Linked DNA regions of Homo sapiens: regions 1 and 2 are each reported to be linked to region 3. The links are microRNA targets in miRTarBase. Many come from high-throughput screens and were not tested one by one. Region 3 holds a microRNA gene; each other region holds the end of a gene's coding sequence.

Region 1 (7,000 bases), not on the chromosome of region 3:
AATTATGGGAAATTATTTTTGCTTTTCCAAAATTATGACAACAAAGAAAACCCAAATTTCATCCCCAGCCCCCCTAAAAACATAAATGATTTCGATCACTTTTTTTTTTTTGAGGAAGAGATGCATCAGCTTTTAAATAAATGGTGAAGAGCAATAACATCTGATGGAGAGGGGCCACCTGGGCTCATTTCACCTGTGCAGTGGATTCAGGTGGTGGGCCATATCCATCCCATACTGCAGTTTGTGGTTGCTGTTGTTAGGGGTGCCATATGTCTTTCCCTTGTTCTTTGTCCACTGATATTCACTAGCCTGTTTGTCCTCACCCCTGAAGCAGATAAACACATGTAGATGGAGGAAAAGTGACAGGCAGGTGGGTTCATCAGTGGGCTCATCCCAAAGGTGACCCATCCCTTGGATTGGAGTCAGGTCTATTTTAGGCATGGCAGGTTGGAAGAAAGACTATTCTCATAGCTAACATGGCTGACCTTCAACCCTCTTTTCCCTTTAGTTGGACGTAGAAGCAGCTCTGACCAAAGCCCTTGGGGAAGTGGACATTCTTCTGACCTGGATGCAGAAATTCTACAAGCTCTGAATGTCTAGACCAGGACCTCCCTCCCCCTGGCACTGGTTTGTTCCCTGTGTCATTTCAAACAGTCTCCCTTCCTATGCTGTTCACTGGACACTTCACGCCCTTGGCCATGGGTCCCATTCTTGGCCCAGGATTATTGTCAAAGAAGTCATTCTTTAAGCAGCGCCAGTGACAGTCAGGGAAGGTGCCTCTGGATGCTGTGAAGAGTCTACAGAGAAGATTCTTGTATTTATTACAACTCTATTTAATTAATGTCAGTATTTCAACTGAAGTTCTATTTATTTGTGAGACTGTAAGTTACATGAAGGCAGCAGAATATTGTGCCCCATGCTTCTTTACCCCTCACAATCCTTGCCACAGTGTGGGGCAGTGGATGGGTGCTTAGTAAGTACTTAATAAACTGTGGTGCTTTTTTTGGCCTGTCTTTGGATTGTTAAAAAACAGAGAGGGATGCTTGGATGTAAAACTGAACTTCAGAGCATGAAAATCACACTGTCTTCTGATATCTGCAGGGACAGAGCATTGGGGTGGGGGTAAGGTGCATCTGTTTGAAAAGTAAACGATAAAATGTGGATTAAAGTGCCCAGCACAAAGCAGATCCTCAATAAACATTTCATTTCCCACCCACACTCGCCAGCTCACCCCATCATCCCTTTCCCTTGGTGCCCTCCTTTTTTTTTTATCCTAGTCATTCTTCCCTAATCTTCCACTTGAGTGTCAAGCTGACCTTGCTGATGGTGACATTGCACCTGGATGTACTATCCAATCTGTGATGACATTCCCTGCTAATAAAAGACAACATAACTCAAGTCTGGCAGACTTTCTTCTCTATTTCTGGATGAATGCCCAGTGAGACTGTGTTGTACAGCTAGAAAAGGCCTTCTTCCCAATAGCAAGGCTGTGCATCTAGCCTCAAGCTCTGGCTGAACTTTGTGGTCGACATCAATCTAAAGATACAGTGTCTGACTATAACCTTGTTCCAAAAACCTAGGCAAAGAGTATATGTAGGAGGTGGGATATCACTTCCATGACATAAGTGCTATTGCAGAGCCGTGGCCACCCAGGAACTCCTGACTGCTTTCCTTCCCCTGCTTGCTATACATTGTCTGGAACTGGCTAAGAAATGGGGAACATTTGTGAAAACCAAGAAATGTAATGGTTTTGGATGAATAAAATAGACCAAAGTTAAGGTAAGTGCACAAATATCAGTGTCAGGCTATGGAAGAAAGATAAAGAGATACTTTTTTTTTTTTTTTTTTAGAGGGGAGATGCTGAGGTCAGGGCACTTATGTGCATCAAGTGATGGAGACAGAGTAAAGAGAATTTATGGATATATATGCATATCTTGCTAATAAGTTTGGTTTATCATCACATCAAGATAAATTGCCTTTAGCATAGAACTTGAGATAAGTAGACGTTCACTAGCAAGTGCTAACATTTGGATCAGGGCAAAGGCGTTTCCAGGAGTGTTTTTATACCAGACCCCTGCTTAGTCCATGGGGCTGAGGCATGTCACATAACTCAGAGCAAGAGCCTTCTATTTGTGTAAGACCCAACCCTGGGAAGGATGCCCGAGACAATAGCTATGCCTCTGCCCCAGCCTGATGCCATGTGATCTAGAGCCTGGGCAGCAACAACCCTGTGGTCAAAGACATGGAAGAAACACTCTGCAAATCCCACAGTCTGTTCGACGGCTTGGAAAGGAAGCAAGTGGCATTGGGACAATTGCTCTACATGCCTACAGCTTACCTGTCAACTACAGGGGGCTGCCAAGGTGTGCAAGACGACCTGGGGGCAGAGCCATGCTCAGGGCACAGATAGATGGGGATGGGAGTCGAGATGGGGCATGGGAAGTGATGAGGGCTCTGAGAACACATGAAGCAGGTATTGGACATCAGCAGATAGATGAGACTCCTTGGCACCACAGTCCGAGCCTGGGGTTGGGGGATAGCTGGGGAGTTGTCAGGCAGGAACATTGATGTAGTCATCTGAATCACTGTCCTCCATCATGGCGGCAGGCTGGTGGTAGAGGCTCACGTATTCACAGCTGGTCTTCAGAGATGGGGCATGGAGCCAGGGAGATTCAGACACCTGGGGACAATGAAAGAAGCATCACTGGATCTGGGTAGGGTGATTTTAATATCTCCCCAGGTGGATTTTCATAGTGGGCAATGGGGCATGGACATGGCTGCTGAGTTCCAGAAGGCAAAGACACAGAGATGGCTCAGCTCCATCAAGTGGAGTAGCCCTGGGGATTTTCAGGGTAGTGTCTCACCTGAGATAACTGGAAAACCTAATGTGGGCAGGAAATGCCTTAAATGGGGCTCAGAGTAAAATCATGTGGCTAAGCATGGGCCTGAAAGAGACCCAGCTGCCAGAGGAGTATCCCCTCGGGGATAAGATGCTGTGACTTATGGCATAAATATGCATCTTCTTAGGGAGTTATTCAGAAGTAGAGTGAGTCACCCTCAGCACCTCTGTAAGGGCTCAGAGATGCTGTGATGTGGCGTCGTGACAGTGCATTCCAGGAAGGGGGATGGATGGTGAAGGGGATAAGATGGCAGCCCACATGGAACACTGGTGCTCCTCTTCCCCAGACAGAAACTTCAGGATCATCCACCTTGAGGACAGTCAGTTCTCAAAAGACAGGACTGTGCCAGTGACCCCAACATGGCACAGTTACTATCTCATCCACTGAGGAAGGCCACAAGGGGGACAGTTATGTATTTAAACACAAGCTCTGAGAATTAGACGTCCAGCAGCCTGAATATAGTAGGCATTCAGGAAGTACTCATTGAAAGGAACTTTTATATATTTTGTACTTTACTAAAGAGGGAAGCAGCAGCAGCTTGCTTTGAAAACATGTTTTCCATCAGTCAAGGAAGTAAGAAGCCACAAAACAGAAAAGAAAAAAAGAGAGAAGGTTGAAAAGAAAAGTAACAGTGAGAGCAAAGAAAACTAAGCAACAAAATTACATGGTCCTGGTATAAATGTCAGTGAGGATGAAACTCAGTCAAGTAATCAGTGAAAGACAGCTAATAAGCACATGTTGGTAGCACTCCACTTAGATGATATAAGACCAGTCAAGAAAGACCTGGATCCCAGAACAGCTCAAGATGTCAACCCGAAGCAAATTAACCAGCACATAACAATAGGAGAAACGATACACAAAGTTGGAGGTGACACAGAGAAATGAGAGATGATCAAGATAAAATTTCCAGGGTGGGAAGGAAGGTGGTAATACCTGAGCTTCCTTTAGAGGCCAAAGAAGAGACTGAGGACGGGAAGAAGATGAGGCTGAGGATGGGGAAGAGGATGAGGCAGAGGAAATCCTCGATGTATGACATGATTTTGTTTTTGTTAAATTAAACGAACTTTGAAAAAAGTGAGCAAGTCCTTTGTTAGTTTTTCACACTATCTTCTATTATGTTTTAATTAACTTTCTTTGTCTGAAATAGAGATGGTTTTAGATTTGCTAAAAAACAAAAATTTGTCTTTCACTGCCTGTTATAGTTCATCATTTGAGATTAACTTATTTGGCTTAAGAAATGGAAATGCTCCCCATGGAAGCTATAATAATGAGTCATTAAGCATAGGCACCTTTTTGTAAATTTGTTCCATCAAGATTTTTGCCCCTAATAGTGGGAATGAGAGTTTCAAGTAGAGAGGCAGGGTCAGCTTGGAACAAGGTGCAGGCCCAGGTGAGGGTCTGTGTGGTCACAGGGCAGTTTTAGAGAAAAGGGCTGCTGGAAAGACGGAGTAGACAGACAGTGTGGCGCCTGTTGTCCCTCCTGGTTGCTGCACCATCCTCTGGAGTCAATGGTCAGTATTCAGGTACCAGGACCTTGTGCACATATTTTCGAAGCAAGCTGCTGCTGCTTCCCTCTTTAGTAAAGTACAAAATATATCAAAATTCCTTTCAATGAGTACTTACTGAATGCCTACTATGTTCAGACTGCTGAACACTGCCACGCGGGTGTGAACCTTCTCTAGCGGGGGTGGGGAAGGGCAAGCCGGAGAAGCCGGGGGGTGGGGGGGTGGGGGGGTGGGGGGGGGGTGGGGGCGGGGTGGGGACTGCGCAGAACTGCCTCTTGTTGCTGGGTACCACTCTCTTCTTTGTAGCCAGGCCCACGATTGACCAGCTGGGGATTAAATTTCTCAGCCTGCCTTGAAGGGAGGTTCACTACATGGTTAAGTTTCAGCCTCTAGGATGCAAGTGGAAATGGTGGGAAACGTCAGGGTCATGGGCTTAAGAAGCAGCATTCTCTTCCTCCCTCCTGTAAGCTGGGACGTGCACACGGTCCTGGTGCCTGTGTACTGACCATGGAGCTGGCAAGACTCCAGAGGATGGCGCAGCAACCAGACAGAGGGAATTTCAGTCCCGAGATGACCTCTTGGCTCACTGGCTCAGGCCACCTCTTCCTGTCCCTGTCTGAGCCTTTATTTGGGGAGGGGGAAGTAGGCTTCCACCGTGTGGGCCCTGTCTTTTGGAGTCTGCTGCATTAGCTTAGTCTACATGCGAATTAAACAAGGGATTTTCTTTTCCCAGGCGGCTGCCGAAGATGGCGGGGGTGCAGGTCCTGGTGCTTGATGGTGGAGGCCATCTCCTGGGCCCCCTGGCGGCCATCGTGGCTAACTAGGTACTGCTGGGCTGGAAGGTGGTTGTCGTACGCTGGGAGGGCATCAACATTTCTGGCAATTTCTACAGAAACAAGTTGAAGTACCTGGCTTTCCCCCGCAAGCGGATGAACACCAACCCTTCCCGAGGTCCCTACCACTTCCCGGCCCCCAGCCGCATCTTGTGGCACAAGTACGAGGCTTGCTGCCCCAAGAGACCAAGTGAGGCCAGGCCGCCCTGGACCACCTCAAGGTGTTTGACGGCATCCTACTGCCCTACGACAAGAAAAAGCGGATGGTGGTTCCTGCTGCCCTCAAGGTCGTGCGTCTGAAGCTTACAAGAAAGTTTGCCTATCTGGAGCGCCTGGCTCACGATGGTGGCTGGAAGTACCAGGCAGTGATAACCACCCTGGAGGAGAAGTGGAAGGAGAAGGCCAAGTTCCACTACAGGAAGAAGAAACAGCTCATGAGGCTACGGAAACGGGCCGAGAAGAACGTGGAGAAGAAAACTGACAAATACACAGAGGTCCTCAAGACCCACGGGCTCCTGGTCTGAGCCCAATAAAGACTGTTAATTCCTCATGCTTGGCCTGGCCTGCCCTTCCTCCATCGTCGCCCTGGAATGTGCGGGACCCAGGGGCAGCAGCAGTCCGGGTGCCACAGGCAGCCTGGGACATAGGAAGCTGGGAGCAAGGAAAGGGTCTTAGTCACTGCTTTCTGAGGTTACTTGAAAGCACTCAGGGAATTGTGCAGGTGTAATTTATCTATGACCAATAGGAAGAGCAACCAGTTACTATTAGCAAAAAGGAGTCGGAAGACTAATTGGAGGGGCCCTACCTTGTGAGTGGGGCGTCTGTTTAACTTTCCACCTGGTAATATAGCTCTGCAGCTGTTAGAATGTGCAAGCGCTTGGGGACAACATGAGCTTGCTGTTGTACAAAGGGTATTTATAGAACCATAGACTGGGAAGATGTGCGACCAAGGGGTTACAGGAATTGCCTGTGCTCCTCACCTGTATTTTGTAATCAGGATCAAATAAATTATTTTTAAAGAAAAAAAAAACAGGGATTTTTACCACACCCTTTTAAAAAAAGCTTTATTCTGGGCTCTGCGTGTTTTGGACACTGTAGGCTGCTTTAGAGAATAAAAAGCTTTCTCATCTCAATTCTTAAAGATGAACGGATAAAGGCTTTCTACCCAACCATCAGTGGCCCTGAGTGGAAACGCGAGTTCCCTCCATCCACTCTAGATTTAAAGATGAATCCTCCTCACTCAAGGTGTTGAACCCTGTCTACATCTCTCCCAAGTCATCCTCTAGCCAAGCTTAACCGCCTCCAGAGAAAGGTAAATTACCTCCTCTCATCTTCGAGAGTTTACTAGAAAGTTCTCGCGCACAGGAAGGTGAACTGTCTAGGTAGCTTCCACCTCCCTAGGACCCCCTAGAAATCTAATCTCCTCCACGAGAAAGCCTTTCACATAACTGTGGAGCTGCCACCTATCATTCTCTGCTAAGCCAGCTGCATCCAGCACGCAGGTATCCCGTGACAACTGCTTGGCTAGAAGCCACGGAACCAGGTCTTCTACAGTTCCCGGTATTCAACCTCCTGACACCAAACAAGGAGGAAACTAAAACAACTTGTTCCTCGGCTCAGGGCCCAGGAGCTGCTGGGAAACCCGCTCTCCGGATCGCGGCGGCGGCGGCGCGGGAAGCCACACTCGGGTCCCCGCCCAGGGCTGGGGCCGCCCAGTCGGGCCGCGGCTGCCAATCAGGGCAGGAGCGGAGCTTACCTGCAG
Region 2 (7,289 bases), not on the chromosome of region 3:
CTCAAGTGATCCACCCAACTCGGCCTCCCAAAGTGCTGGGATTACAGGCATGAGCCACCATGCCCAGCCAAATTATGTGTTTTATTTATAAAATAATTTAAGCAAGTGTTTCACCTGGTTGTTCCATTAGTAAATGAAAGATTTTATTTCACTGAGTCTGGGACTTCCCAAATAGCTTAATATTATATTAGTCTTGATGGTTCTTTATTAGAACCAGAATGGTTCAAGAAAGCCTGAAGGCAGGTTCTTTTTTTTTTTTTTTTTTTTTTTTTTGTGAGACAGTCTCTGTTGCCCAGGCTGGAGTGCAGTGGGGCAATCTTGGCTCACTGCAGCCTCCACCTCCCAGGTTCACATGACTCTTAAGCCTCAACCTCTGGAGTAGCTGGAGTTACAGATGTGCACCACCACACCCAGCTAATGTTTGTTTTTTGTTTTTTTTGTTTTTTTTTAGTAGAGACAGGGTTTCGCCATATTGGCCAGGCTGGCCTGGAACTCCTGACCTTAAGTGTTTCGCCTGCCTTGGCCTCCCAAAGTGTTGGGATTTCAAGAGTGAGCCACTGTGCCCAGTCTGAAGGGGGGCTTCTCGGCTGTTGACTTATGCTGGAACTCAGTACAGAGACTATTTCATCTAATTAATATTCCTGTTTAAATTCTTTTAGACCAACCTTATACGGACAGTATGGGGTTGCATCGACATCTTAAATCAGTAATTGCTAAGCTCTAATCTGAATTTTTTTTGTTTTTACTTATAGCAAAAATATTTTGATTCTGGGGATTACAACATGGCTAAAGCAAAAATGAAGAACAAGCAACTTCCTACTGCAGCTCCGGATAAGACGGAGGTCACTGGTGACCACATTCCCACTCCGCAAGACCTTCCTCAACGGAAGCCGTCCCTTGTTGCTAGCAAGCTGGCTGGCTGATTAAGAGGCTGAACTGCATGAATCTGCTAAATCTCATTATTTCTCCTTAATATGTTACTTATCTACTTTTTATTTCCTTTCATTCACTAGTCATTTGAGACTGACAGCTTTGCAGGTAGCAGTAGTGTGTGCTGCTATTGTGGAATATACGTGTGTAGAGTTTTTGATTAGTTTAACAGTGCACTGGTGAAGAGGACATGTTAGAGCAACATAAGTAAACTACTTGAAAATAGTTGTATATATTACCTAACTTCTAGTGTAGTACTGGTTCTAACAAGTAACAAGCAAGTTTTAAAATTTTAATGTTTTGGCTTTCATTACTTCATCTTAATTATAGCTTTGTATGTTACTCTTATTTAATATAATCTCTATTGTATTGATTTCTTCTGTATTTACCTTTTGGATTTTGTAAAACAGAAGTTTAAGACCACAAGTTAGAAGAAAGGTCACATATTTCAAACACAACTAGATGGGGCTCTGAAAGATTTGTATCTCTGTGCTTGAACTTGAATGGCCTTAAACCTGTTTCAGCTTTAACAGTAGAATTTTACTTGGGCAATATTTGCCCATTCTGGTGTAACTTATGTGACTCTAGTGCTTAACAGCTGCCGTTGAAGCTAATATTCAGTTCTGTAGAGTTAGAATACCTTTTGTTGTTGAAGATGTGAATGAAGTATGCATGTGCATTAACTGTTGAATTCACTTTTGTGCCATTTTTGTAAATACAGTAGTTTTGCACAACCTCTCACAAATGTCTGTATTAATTTCACATACTTAAAAAGTAGATAATGTGCCAACCAGAAGCACAAGAGTTCCTACACAAAACTCTGTAAATCATTATAGCTTTTGTATAATAAGAGTAGTTTACAATCTCGGGCTTATAGAATACCAAACTGAAATCTTAGTTCAATCTGCCATAGACTTAAGCTTTTCATTTGTTACTAATATCCATGACATTCAGTGGCCTTGTGCAAATACGATATGTTGCTTAGGCATATCTTTTGTCCTATGCAGAACCTTTCATTTTGATTTTTATGAAAGTTGCAATTCATGTAATTTATATAAACTTTTTAAATGTAGAAACTTTTTACTTCCACACTCAGTTTTGGAGACCCTAGAATAAAAGGCTTCAATACTCTGCATTCCATGCCCTCTGCCACCTGCTTTTTTTTCCCCTTTGTTCTTTGACTCAAATGGTATTGAGCTGTTTGTTGTATATGGAAGCATAGGTGTCTATATCCTTACTCTTTTATATAACACAATAATGGCGTTTTCCTTCTAATTTCTCAGTTGTTAACTTCTTTCTCTTTTTTTTTTAGGATAGGGCCTTGCTCTGTCACCTGAGCTCTAGTGCAGTAGTGCAATCACAGCTCACTGCAACCTTACTCCTAGGCTCAAGTTAACTATTCTTGATCCTTTATTATTACTAATATTCTACAATTGTTTAAATAAAAGGAACTTTATAATGAAACGGTTCGGAATACTGGCTCAAGAACCTATGTCAAGATGAGCTGAATTTTGGTAAATTATTTTAGGAATTATGACAAGCTAATTGAATTAGGCTTGTGACAATTAGAGTAATTTACATGACAGGTAAAACTCCTATTAAAAATGTTTAGATGTTTGCTTCTGTAGATGTCACTTTAGTAAAATACCAATTTAGTTTTACTTGTGGCTTATCTAGTTAGAACTTAGCAGACTTTACTGGGACAAGTTTACTGCTCTTGTAGGAGCTCCTCTCACAAGTAGTTGTAATGCTGTAGCATGATACTCAGGATCAGTAGCTTGAGATGCTACTATTTTTCTCTTCATCTTTGACTTGCAGAGAGCCTCCCGTTTTTGGATCCAGGCATCTTTTCTGAATCCTGGTTCCATCAGTATACCTGCTCTCCTATGACCCCAAATCATAGTCAATGGTGCCTCAAACATAGCACCTTAAGTTAAAGGCTGCCTAGTGCTCTGAGGAAAGCTTGCTGATTATCTTCCTGATCTACTCACCCCAAAAGGCAGAAAAGCAACACAGTCACTGCTGTGGTCATTTGTAATGTAAAGATCAGTTATATATATATATTTGTAATGAGAGCAAGTATATACTCATTATAGAATCAATTTAAGAAGTTTAAAATAACCCAGAGTAGAATTTCTATATCTAGTCTTGGTTTTTTTCATGAATATTTGCAAGTAATTACCATTAAATTCACACATGAAAGATTAATCTGAAAGATCAGAGACCATGTTATTCCTGACCACGATAGAACTGCTCCTGTGGTTTGGGACAAGTAATAAAACAACTGCTTGAGTTTTGTTTGTAAAATACATAATTAATATTTGACCTACCTCAAAATGTATTGAGGATCTGTGAAATGCTAAGTGCCCAAAATAAAATATTGCTGATTGTCTTTTTATTAAAAGTAAATTTCCTCATTAAGCCAACCTGCCTTCTGTAAGTCACAGTGCTTAAATCTCAGGATTTTTCATTAGGAGAGACCTGTCGTTAAGGATTTGTAGGTATAATTGCTTAGCCTCCATTATTGGTGCTTGGGATAGAGAGGTTTTAGATTTTTGTTTTTTTTTTGTTCTGCCTCAAAGCTCAGTTTATTGAAGACATTTGTAAGCTATTGGATCATCACTTGAATCAAGATTTTGACTAGTGAGCTTAATTGTCCATTTCTTACAATTTCAAAGTTACAGTCTCAGAAATGGTTAATTTTAATAACTGTCCTATCATAAATTAATGTTGGAATAAATTGAAGTTGTTGATAAATACTTCATGAAAACTAAAGTCTGAAATAAATTACTTGTTTTATGTCCAATAGCTACTACATTTGATAGAACAGTTTTGAGGAACATTTCATTCTTGAACGCAGCATCTGACATGGTTCTCAGCAAGTTGGAATAGTAAGGATTATTGGCTTGTTTCGATGAGTGGAAGCGGCATGTTTGTAGCATACAAGTTATTCAATAATCTTGTGCTGATGACCTAAAAATATGTCTTAACTATTCATCAAGGAAAGCCTGGTGAAGCCTTTACTTGTTACTACTTCAACAGTTGGAATTAGTTGCTCTTTTTACTTGATGAAACAAAACTATACCTCTGAATATTTATGGATACTTTTTACTAAATCAGGCTTGTGTTCTTAATCCAAATTAGTAAAGTTTTATGGAAGCTGAAATGTAATACAGTAGTCTCCCCTTATCTGTAAGAGATACATTCCAAGACCCCTAGTGGATGCCTGAAACCTCAGATAGTACTGAACCCTTTATCAACTATGTTTTTTCAGTCTGACAACCAAGGCGGCTACTAAGTGACTAAGGGGCAGGTAGTATACAGTGTGGATAAGCAGGACAAAGGGGTGATTCACATCCCAGGCAGGACAGAGCAGGAGATCATGAGATTTCATCACTCAGGATGGCTTGTGATTTATTTTATTTTATTCTTTTTTTTTTTTGAGATGGAGTCTCACTCTTGCCCAGGCTGGAGTGCAGTGGTGCGATCTTGGCTCACTGCAACCTCTGCCTCCTGGGTTCAAGCAGTTCTCCTGCCTCAGCCTCCCAAGTAGCTGGGATTACAGGCGTCCGCCACCATGCCCAGCCAATTTTTGTACTTTTAGTAGAGATGGGGTTTCACCATGTTGGCCAGGCTGGTCTCGAACTCCTGACCTCAGGTGATCCACTCGCCTCGGCCTCCCAAAGTGCTGGGATTATAGGCATGTGCCACCATGCCCGGCCGGCTTATGATTTAAAACATGAATTGTTTATTTCTGGAATTTTCCACATAATATTTTTGGACCAAGGTTGCCTCAGGTAACAAACTACAGAAAGTGAAATTGCAGATAAAGGGGATTACTGCTCCTCTGCTCTAAAATTGGTGTTTGGGTGATCAGAAGCAGGTAGCCAATGGGAAGAGCACTTCTGAGTGATAACTAAAGCAGTTTGGTGGCCTTTTCACATTCTCCAATGTTCAAACATATTTTCCACTTTCCATTTTCTCTTTCACCTCATTTTGCCTCTCTATCCCCCATCCCTGCTTATTTCTTAAGCCCATTGATGGCACTCATTAAATTGTATTTAGGGCTAATGAGTCATTGTTCCTTAATATCGTTTTCAATATGCCACAATTTAGGACACATTTAAAATTTTCTAAAACAATATCCTAATCAATATTGACTAATTTGAGCCACATTCCCAACTCTAACTCAGCACACACTGCCAGTCTTCCCCAATATCTGTCTCCTCTCAATTCCCCACCACACCTTATAAAATTGTAATCAAAGATATCTCACTCTGTCATTGTTAATCTAAGAATAAAAACACTGACTTTAATACGGTTTTACTAAGTTTCAACCTTCTAATTAGGTAGGCCTCTAGGTATTCTGCAGATCACTGCTGGTCTTGATAGCCATTAATATATGTTTGTATTATGTTATTTTTCAACTAAATCGCAGTTGGAAAAAAACATATTTAATATTATGCCCTTGGATCTGTTACTGCATCACTAGCACTTGTGATGCAATAGAACACTTCGCCTGTACTGAAAGGGCCAAGAGTAAATGCCTTGTTTTGTTTTTTTGTTTTGTTTTGTTTTGCTTTTTGTTAAAACATGTCTATAGAGTTGGCAGTTAATGCTGAATTTGTCAAATACCCCTTCCAAAATTATACTTGTATTTAAAAAATAAATGGATCTACCTAATTTCTATTGATTTAATTTGCAGTTTTGTCTTATTAAAGTGGTATGTTTTTCAGTGTATTTTTTCTGAAGTTGATCTCTTTACATTTCAGCTATTACTGTATGCAGGAAGAAACTGACTTGTAATCTTTGATTTTTTTTTTTTTTTTGCATTTGTAAAGGCTTTGTACTTAAGGTAGGATTAAATGTTTGCAGATTGTGAGTCTTTTTCATCTTATTTGTGAAACATTACAGAGGAGGGGCTTCAACATGGCTGACTAGAGACATCTGGTACTCAGCTTCTCTACAAAGAGCCACAATAGTGAGGAGATAACACCTCAACTAGATCATTCAAGAGAGAACTCAGGAATTAAACAGAAAAAGGACAGGAAACAGTTAAGGTAGGAGAGGGAAGCAAGGCAGCCTACTTGGCCAGGATCTTCTGGGGGCCTGGAAAGATTAAATGAGTGATTGCCAGAAGTCCACATTCTCACCACAGACTCCTGCATCCCAGCCACAGGACAGCCTTTAGACCCTCGCAGACCCCAAGACTAACATAGGGAGCTGCCTGGAGACCACAAAAGATACTGCTCCAGAGACGGAGCTTATGCCGTCCCCCCACCCAAAGCCCTAAGCAGCTGCAGCAAGGCACCATATTGAGAGCTTAGCCCTGCAAACTGCATCCTGCCCAGAGGCCCTACAGCCCTTGCATCTCCACATCTCTAGAACCTCATTGATGTTCACCACCAATAGCCACCATCACAGCTGGCTGCTACCTACAGGGCTGAAGTGCCCAGCCATTGGCAAAGACCTTGCTGCCCCAGTAGTAAAGCTGCCATGCATTTTCATGTGCCCCAAGGACAAACTCCCCTACCTGTGGTGGTCTGACTGCAGGCTGCTGTAACCAGGGCCAATGGACGAGTGAAGCACAGGCTCACAGCCTCCTGGGTGTGGCTGCTGCAACTGAAAACAACCTTGCCCTCCACAGTGTCAGAGCTGCAGTGTAGCCACTGCCCTGCCACCGCCACCACAAGCATCCTGCTATAAGCCTGAGGATCACCCTTCCCCTGCCTGCCACAGTCAGCACCTGCACACACCACTAGAAGGCTTGAGAACAGGTCCACTCAGTCTGGCTCCACATCCTGTGTCCAAGCATGCCATCCAGGGGCCTGGGGATTACCCAGCTCAGTCCACCATTGTTGACTTCTGAGGACTCCTGGGGGCCTGATGTCAGTCCTGTTGAACCTGCTGCTACCACCACAGTGGGCACCCACCTAATATGCCACCACTAGGCCTGGGGACTGGCCCAACCCAGCCCCTTGCAGCAACTGCCAACACCAGCTCGTGATATACAGAACAACCAGAAATAATAAAATCACAGAAATAAGCCCTCACATATCAATAATAATCTTGTAAATGGATTACAGCTTTCCAGTTAAAAGAGGTAAAGTGGCTGAATGGATTCAAAATCATGACCCAACTGTATGCTGCCTACAAGGAACTAATCTCACTTGTAACGACACATATAAGACTGAAAGTAAAGGGATGGGAAAAGATTTTTCCATGCAAACGGAGACCAAAAGCATGCAGGAATAGCTATACTTAGATTAAACAGATTTTAAGTCAAAAACGGTAAGGAGAGAAGCATATTATTTAATGATAAAAGGATCAATTTTATCAGGATATAACAGTTCTAAACA
Region 3 (7,289 bases):
TCAGTGCTGCTCCGGGTTGTGAAAGCTGCAGGTGGCTCACGTTAGCCCACATGGCAGCACCCTCCCAGAGCAGGTGCCAACCTGCCAGTGTAGACACACCGACTGATGCCGGGGGTGAGTGTCCTGTAGTGTAGAAACGCCCACTCATCCTGCTTGTCCCGCAGAGAGCATTTGTCAAGCTGGCCTTTCTCCAACTGGGTCACTGATGGAGTTCGGCAGAGACGGCTTGGGGGCCACGGGCTGGGCAGATGGGGAGAGCTCCTCACAAGGCTGGGCAGCCAGACCCCCATTGTCAGTCCCCTCCAAACCCTCGTGGGATGTAGGGCCCTACCACAGGGAGCCCCGGGACTGGGCCAGTGTCTCAGGAGGCTGTGAAGAGTCATAGGCTTGAGTCTGGGAGCTTTCTCGGGGGCCGTTTTGTGCCCCTTGGGGAGAGGCCAGAGGGGCCCTGGGTAAGGGGACTCCTCTAGAATCACCCAGAAGTGGCAGGAGGTGCAGGGCCACTGCTCGGGGCTCCCTGGGCTCTGAGCTGGGCAGTGACCTGGCCCCAAGGCCTCTGGCTCTCTGGCGTGCAGTGGGAACAGCCGGGACAGACAGGCTTGGAGCGTTCGTGTCCTGCGCCGCGTTGGTGTGTTTCGTCCCCACTGTGCCTGTAGGAGGGCACCGGGTCCCCGTCTATCCTACTTCATGGCTGAGGAAGCTAAGGCACAGAGTGGCCCCGTCCTGCGCCCAGGGCTCTGCGTTGGCACAGGGCAGAGCTGGGCTGTGAATCAGGGCCGCCTTGTCTCTTGCTGTGGTGTGAGGCTGTGGGAGACTCAGGAATGAGGCACAGCCAGGTGCCCAGTGCCCGTGGGACCCGCCTCCCCACAGTGGGGTGGCGCCGCTCACACCTGGTAATTTCACGCTGGGGGAGGCCTTGGTTCCTATAGCCCATCTCGAATCACCTGGATCCCAGGGCTATCTCTGGGGAACATCTCCTCTCCATCACGACTACTGTCTTTTTCACCAGCATTTTCTATCCTAAAATCAGACTCCTCAGCTGAGGGCCCTCCAGGACCGCCCTTCCCCAGCTGGAGGTAACCAGATTTCTCGTGTATGCTAGGAAGTTCCCCTTCTGGTCACACCTCAATATTTCCTGCTGCTGGTGGGAACTGCAGGTGCTTGTACTTGTCACCTTCTCCCCGTCCTCTCTCGTCAGTTCCCTTGGATGCTGGACACGGGAGCCACCTGGGCGAGGGGAGCCCATCCAAGTGGCTGTGCGTCGGGAAGAGTCTGCCCAGGACTGGGCTAGACCAGAACTTAGAATTAAGGAGTGGTGGCCAGGCTTGGTGGCTCACACCTGCAATCCCAGCACTTTGGGAGGCCGAGGCGGGTGGATAGCTTGAGCCTAGGAGTTTGAGAACAGCCAACATGGCGAAACTCTGTCTCTTAAAAAATAAATAAAAACATTAGCCAGGTGTGGTGGTTTGTGTCTGTGGTCCCAGCTACTTGGGAGGCTGAGGTGGGAGAATCGCTTGAACTGGGAAGATGGAGGTTGCAGCGAGCCAAGATCGCACCACTGCACTCCAGCCTGGGCAACACAGCAAGACTAGGTCTCAAAAAAAAAGAAAAAAAAAAAGAAAAGAAGAGAGGTGGGTTCTTCTTGCCCATGCAGTTGTGTTGGGGGAGGAGCTCCCAAGCTCCTGTTCTTGATCTCAAGCTCCCCTATGCCCACTTCCATCCCCACCCCCATGCCGCAGCCCCTCGGACTCCACACCCAGGCACTGAGACCCACAGATGCAGCGATGGCAAGGCCTGTCATCCCTTCTCTACCACCAAGAGCTGTGCAATCCCCAGAAGTCACTGTCCCTCCCTGAGCCTCAGTTTCCCCAACTGCAAAATGAAAATAACAAAACCTTTCTGATTCCCTTTCCAGGGTGGCTGCGGTGGTTGAGCCACACGCGGCCCATGTGGAAATGTCTGGGGGGTCCCTCAGATCTGGTGGCTGTGTTCTGGTCTGGGGCTCACCTTGGCTCCTGAGCACTTGGCTCCTGGCTGGCTGGGCGGGTGGTGGGATGGCGTGTCACCGCCCTGCACTGGAATGAATGGTCACCACCCTGCTGCCCAACCCCATACAGACACACTAATGGCTCCAGACTTGGGGCAAGTGCTGAAGGGGGCTCTAGGGTATTTCCTAGAGCCTGAGCCCTCCCCTCAGCTGCCATGTTCTGCTGAAGCAGAGTCCCTGGGAGGCGCCACTGGTCAGGCCTGGACACCTCCAGGTGACTAAGTGGGTAGGACCGGCAGGGCCAGCTGCGCCAGGACGTTCGGGGCTGGGCTGTGAGTGGGGGGAGCGAGGCTCAGGCCCTTGCTGCGTGAGGGGGTAGGGCGTCCCTCCCCCCGCGTGGGAAATGAGGAGGCAGGTACGGGGCTACCCCTGTGGGCTGCGGGGTGGGGGTTCAGGGTCTGAGAAGCAGAAACCTCCCTCCCTCCAGTTTCACTTTCTCTTTACCCCTCCCCTTCCCCCTCCCACGAAGTTCCCTTTGAAGTGAGAGGGGCTGGGGTGGGTGTGTCCAGCCCAGCCCCCACACCCACCGGAGAGCTAGCGCGGCCCTGGGCTCCTGTCGGGCGCTGGTCCTCACCTGTTCCGGCCACCCTGGGCCTCGACCCGGCCAAGGTGGAGCCCCGGGCCCTCCGTGCGCCCGAGCACCCCCGGCCCAGACGAGACGGTTCGGGCGTGGCCCGGCGGGGACCCAGAACCCGGGAGGCCAGGTGCGCCCAGGCCAGGCGCTGGAGGCTGGGGCGCCGGATGGGGCGGGGCGGCCGCTGAGTCAGGGCCACCCCCGCGCGGGCGCGCGGAGCAGGTCCCCGGGCCGTGGAGGATCAGTCGCGGGACCTATGGGCCCGGGAGCCGCCCCGCCCGGAAAAACCGGTCGGGCCAGCGCGGCGCGGGCACATTCCGGCGCCGGGAAGGGCGGCTGCGCCGCATAAAAGGCGCCGCCGCGCTGGCCACCGCCGCTCGGAGCTCAGCCGCCCTGCCACGCGGGGCCCGCGGGACGAGGGGACGCCGGGGCCAGCGAGGACGCGGCGGGGCTGGGCTTGGCGGCTGGGATCCCCCAGCGCCAGGCGAGGGCGTCTAAGGCGTCCGGTACGGCGTCGGGGCCGGGTGGCTGCAGCAGGGCAGGGGGTGCGCGACCAGCGGGGATCTGGGCGCAGGGGCCGGTCCCCGGGATCCGCAGGCGACGCGGGCGGTCCCAAGGGCGTCGGGGGCTCCTCTCTCCGCAGCTCGGCGAACCGACGGTGTTGGGGACTCGCGCGCTGGGTCCAGTGGTTCTTAACAGTTCAACAGTTCTGTAGCGCAATTGTGAAATGTTTAGGACCACTAGACCCGGCGGGCGCGGCGACAGCGACGGAGCGTCCCACGCGCGGCCTGGAGTCAGAGTCACAGTCAGGGGTGCGCCGGCGACCAATCCAGGGGAGCCCACGGACCGGCTCCGCGCTCCAGGTCGGCCGCCCCATGCGCCGCGCCCCGCAGTCCCCAGGGCCTGGCTGGCTCCACCTGCTGCCAGGGAAGACCCTCGGCCGGAGAGCCAAGTGCTGCTGGGAGGTGGCCGGGCGTGGCCGGGCTGTGCTGTGGGAACCGCTGGGTGGGGGCGCGCTGGGTTGCCCACGCTCCTGGCGCGCTGCCGGCCTGGAGACGCCGCCGCCGCCCTCTTGCACCCCGAGGGCCCGCACCTCGAAACTCCGTGGAATTCCCAGCGAGGAACTGGCGGTGGGCCCGTAGGGTTGAGGAGCGCTCCTTGCCCTGGGCTTCCTGGGAGCTGCCCATCAGGCTGCCGGCAGCCGCACCCTGCTGGGCGGCCGATGGTTCCCGCTGCCGGCTCCCCGGAGCGTCTCCACTCACTGAGGCCTTAGGGAGCGCTGCGCGGCTCCTACGAGTGCGCGCTAAACTCGTGAAGGACCTCGAGGCACAGGAACTGGGGGTGGGGAGGAAGTTTGCAGACTACACCCAGGTAGAGGAGAAGCGGCGCCCATGATGACAGGTGCCTTCGCCGGAGCCTCCCTGGAACCTCGTGGTAGCTAGCGCCCACAGGAGAGGTGTGCGCGTCAATCTGCGTGTGAAGCCCCGGGCGGCCCTGGGAGGGACTCAGCAAAGGGTCGAATCTGTCCCCACCTCCAGCCAGGGGCCGGGGTCTTCTGCCTGGTGCTGCCTGGCCTGCTGTGTCCTCTGGGGTGGAGGGTCCCCCTCCAGTCCCCACCTCCTCACCCAGTGTTTAGAGAGCTGCGGGGAGTCCTGGGAGATGGGTCAGACAGGCCTGGGTTTGAGGCCTGCTAGGGTGGCCTTGGGCCAGTCACCTGCCCTCTCTGAGCCCGACCTGCACACATAGGGGGTTGATGTGAGGAGACAGGAGGTGACTGTGGAGGGCTGTTCCAGAAGAGGGCCAGCAGCAGGACAGCAAGGTCCCCTGGCCACCCAGGTGGGGGGAGTGGAGTTCCCGGGAGAGCATCCACCACTGGCCAGTGCCTCCTCTGTTGCTCAGCAAATGCCATTGTGGCCACCTCTCAGGATCTGGCTTCAGAGCTTGGGGCCGTGGGAGCGCCCAGTGGGTCTGTGGCATCGGAGGGGTTGGAGTGTCTTCCCCAGCTGCTGCCTGCTGACCACCGCAGCCCCCTGTAGCCATTTCATTTTACAAGCACGTTCCCCCGTGCCCTCTGCATGGGCCCTCAGCCCTCAGCAGCCCCGTGAGAGGGGCTGAGGCTCAGGTGGGAGATGGCGGCTGTGTCCCTGTTCTGCGGCTTGGAGGCATTCTGTCCGGTGTGCGTCTGTACAATTTAGACTGATGACAATAAACATGTTCCAAAGCATCGCTGTGTCCCTGGGGTGCTTGTCCTTTTCCCCCAGGCCTCAGCGTGGTTTCTCCCTTGAAAGCAAGCCAGCCTTTTCCTTCTAATCTCAGAGAAGCAGAAATGAGGATGGTTGGTGGAGGGGCAGTGGCCTGGTCCTTACCCAAGACCCTCCCTCAACTCTGCCTCTGGCACTTTGGTCTCCAGGGAAGCCCCCAGCCTCTGCCACCAGCTTTCTCGTTGCAGTGACCTCCCCTGGGCCACTGGGCCAGACCCCCTCCCTCGGGTTTGAGCTGCACTGCCTCAAGGAGCCAGGCTGGGGAAAGGGCTTGGCTCCCAGGGGCCCCACTTTCAGGGGCTCCAGCCTGCTCCCACTCCCCCCACTCACCACAACACTGCTCCCTTGGCTGGCTCCCACTCATTCCCGCTGGAGCCTGTAGGCTGGCCCTGGGGACCTGGCCAGGAGAATGGGCAAGGTGGGAGGGTTGAGGGATTGAAGAGACAGAGGCACCTTCCTCCACCCTCCCTGCCTCTGGCACAGGGGACCGAGAGTCTGTCGTGCATTCAAACCCCAGCTCTATGCCTACAAGCAAGTGACCTTGGCAAGTCCCTTATCCCCTCGGAGGACCTGTTTCTTCCTTCTGTAGGATGACGTGGAGCTCGCTGGAGGTTCCCCTGACATGATGCAGCACACTTCCTGAGTGCTCAGCAGGGCAGAGCTCAAGCTGTCACTGGAGCTGATGTGGTGGGAGGGCCAGTGGGGGATCCTTGAAGAGGCCGAATTTCAGCCAGGGCCTCGGAGGACCAATGGAAGGCCTCAGGTGGCAATGAGGTGTGGTCTTACAACAGGCCCCTACTTGGTCCCTGGGGACACCAGGAGGACAGGCCCCTACTTTGCTGAGACTAGACCTGTGCTTCCTGGCACCCCAGCCCCTCCACTCCGGCCTCTCCAGCCTCTGCCCCTGACCCAGGTGGAGGATGGCTCCTCGGGGTCCATTCCTTCAGCCATGGAATTCCTGAAGGGAAGCTGGGCACGTGGGGCTCCTGGGCTGCTGGTGGAGACACATGCCACCTCTACACAGGGGAGTGTGAACAGAGGCAGATGCAACTTCTGGGTGGAACTGGGGCACTGTGGTGCTGAGACGTGCCGACTGTGCTGCTGGAGGGCCACGCCGGGGCAGGGCAAAGCATCCCTGCATGAGGCCGACCCACCTGTCCAGGTGTGCCTGCGTGTTTCCTGATTTGGCACCGAAACGTTCTTGGAATCTTCTGAGTCTGGGGCAAACTGGGACTGCTGATCACCCTACGTGGGACCAGCTCATGTACACGCTGCCCTACCCACTTGGACAGCTGAACAGCTTGTCTTTTCCACAAGAGAAAGGAACCTTCTGCCTTTTAAAGCCAGTGTTATTTTGGTCTCTGTTAAAGTAGCTAAACCAGTATGTGAAGGCAGGGGTTCTGACTCACTGCAGAGGCCCAGGCTCAGTGAGTAGGATGGGTGGCAGGGATCTGGGTCTTCACCAAGTTCCCAGGCGAGCCTGATAAATGCCCAAGGCTGACAGCAGCTGTCTTAGGCGAGAGACCTCAGGAAGAGAGACAGGCTGGGGGAAGGGGAGACAGGTCCTGAATCTGCAGCTATGGGTGGTGCCTGGCCTCTACTCCCTGGGAGCAGGAGCCTAGAGTAGAATTTGCATCTTAGCCTCTCTGTCCTTCCCCAGAGGAGTCCATAGCGCCCGCTGAACAGGTAACCTGCCAGGCCAGGGTCTGGGGGTGCCCACTCGAGGCTCATGGAATCTAATTGTATATGCAGGTCTCAGGCCATTTGTGCTGCTGTAACAAAACCTCTGAGATGGATAATTTATAAGGAACCACGAGAAATTTATTTCTTCGGATCTGGAGGCTGGAAGTCTAAGATCAAGGTGCTGGCAGGTTCAATAGCTTGTGAGGTCTCAGTCTCTGCTTCCAAGTTGGTGCCTTGCGTGGGTGCTCTGGAGGGGAGGGACACCATGTCCTCACACGACAGAAGGGATGAACAGCAGAAAGGATGGGAAGGGCAAACTCGCCCCCTCATGCCCTTTTATAAGGCACAAATCCTACCCATGAGGGTGGAGCACTCATGGCCTCCTCAGCTGCTGAAGGCATCAGCTCTTCATCCTGTTGCACTGGGGATGAAGTTTCAACATGAATTTTGGAGGGTCACAAGCACTCAAGCCATGGCAACATATTTGCAGTTGAGAATCATCAGAGGGAGGACAGATGATGGCTCCTTCCTGGGTGACTAGATAAGCCCCATGGGACAGCACATCTGTCACAGGGCTGTGGGGTCACTGTGACTGGCTTTCTGAGTATCTTTCCGTGGTTCTGAGGCTGCCCGGGGAGCAAAGTTGTGCTGGGAGGGCACACATACAAGCTGAGTTGCCTTGAGCCCGCCAGTCTTTGTCGGGGGTGTCACTATTTTTCTTGGG

The links. The annotated mature microRNA hsa-miR-203a-3p reads GUGAAAUGUUUAGGACCACUAG and lies in region 3 at 3,344-3,365, shown strand. An mRNA with a match to its seed (bases 2 to 7 or 8) in the 3' UTR can be bound and repressed. Matches are read on the target gene's strand: a 7mer-m8 pairs with bases 2 to 8, a 7mer-A1 pairs with bases 2 to 7 and ends in A, and an 8mer does both.
Region 1: the mRNA of IL24 is a reported target of hsa-miR-203a-3p. Seed matches in the 3' UTR shown: 8mer at 643-650, 7mer-A1 at 849-855 and 7mer-m8 at 1,199-1,205.
Region 2: miRTarBase lists ARPP19 as a target of hsa-miR-203a-3p. Seed matches in the 3' UTR shown: 7mer-A1 at 1,376-1,382, 7mer-A1 at 3,600-3,606, 7mer-m8 at 3,771-3,777 and 7mer-m8 at 5,695-5,701.

Annotation. Positions count from the first base shown.
Region 1 is chr1:206,902,468-206,909,467 of GRCh38, forward strand. IL24 (interleukin 24) reads left to right here. Exons shown (of 7, transcript NM_006850.3): 7 at 509-1,672. The coding sequence ends at 592. It overlaps FCMR (Fc mu receptor), which reads right to left. Exons shown (of 8, transcript NM_005449.5): 7 at 6,995-7,000; 8 at 850-2,680. The coding sequence ends at 2,552. It also overlaps the pseudogene RPL13AP8. Among named protein-coding and RNA genes, the nearest start is that of IL24, 8.5 kb to the left of the region's middle. RefSeq lists an enhancer at 2,251-3,450.
Region 2 is chr15:52,545,568-52,552,856 of GRCh38, reverse strand. ARPP19 (cAMP regulated phosphoprotein 19) reads left to right here. Exons shown (of 3, transcript NM_006628.6): 3 at 753-5,812. The coding sequence ends at 923. Among named protein-coding and RNA genes, the nearest start is that of ARPP19, 20 kb to the left of the region's middle. RefSeq lists an enhancer at 6,400-6,901.
Region 3 is chr14:104,114,126-104,121,414 of GRCh38, forward strand. It overlaps MIR203A (microRNA 203a), which reads left to right and starts at 3,280; the gene lies at 3,280-3,389. It overlaps ASPG (asparaginase), which reads left to right. Exons shown (of 16, transcript NM_001080464.3): 16 at 1-1,457. MIR203B (microRNA 203b) reads right to left here and starts at 3,378; the gene lies at 3,293-3,378.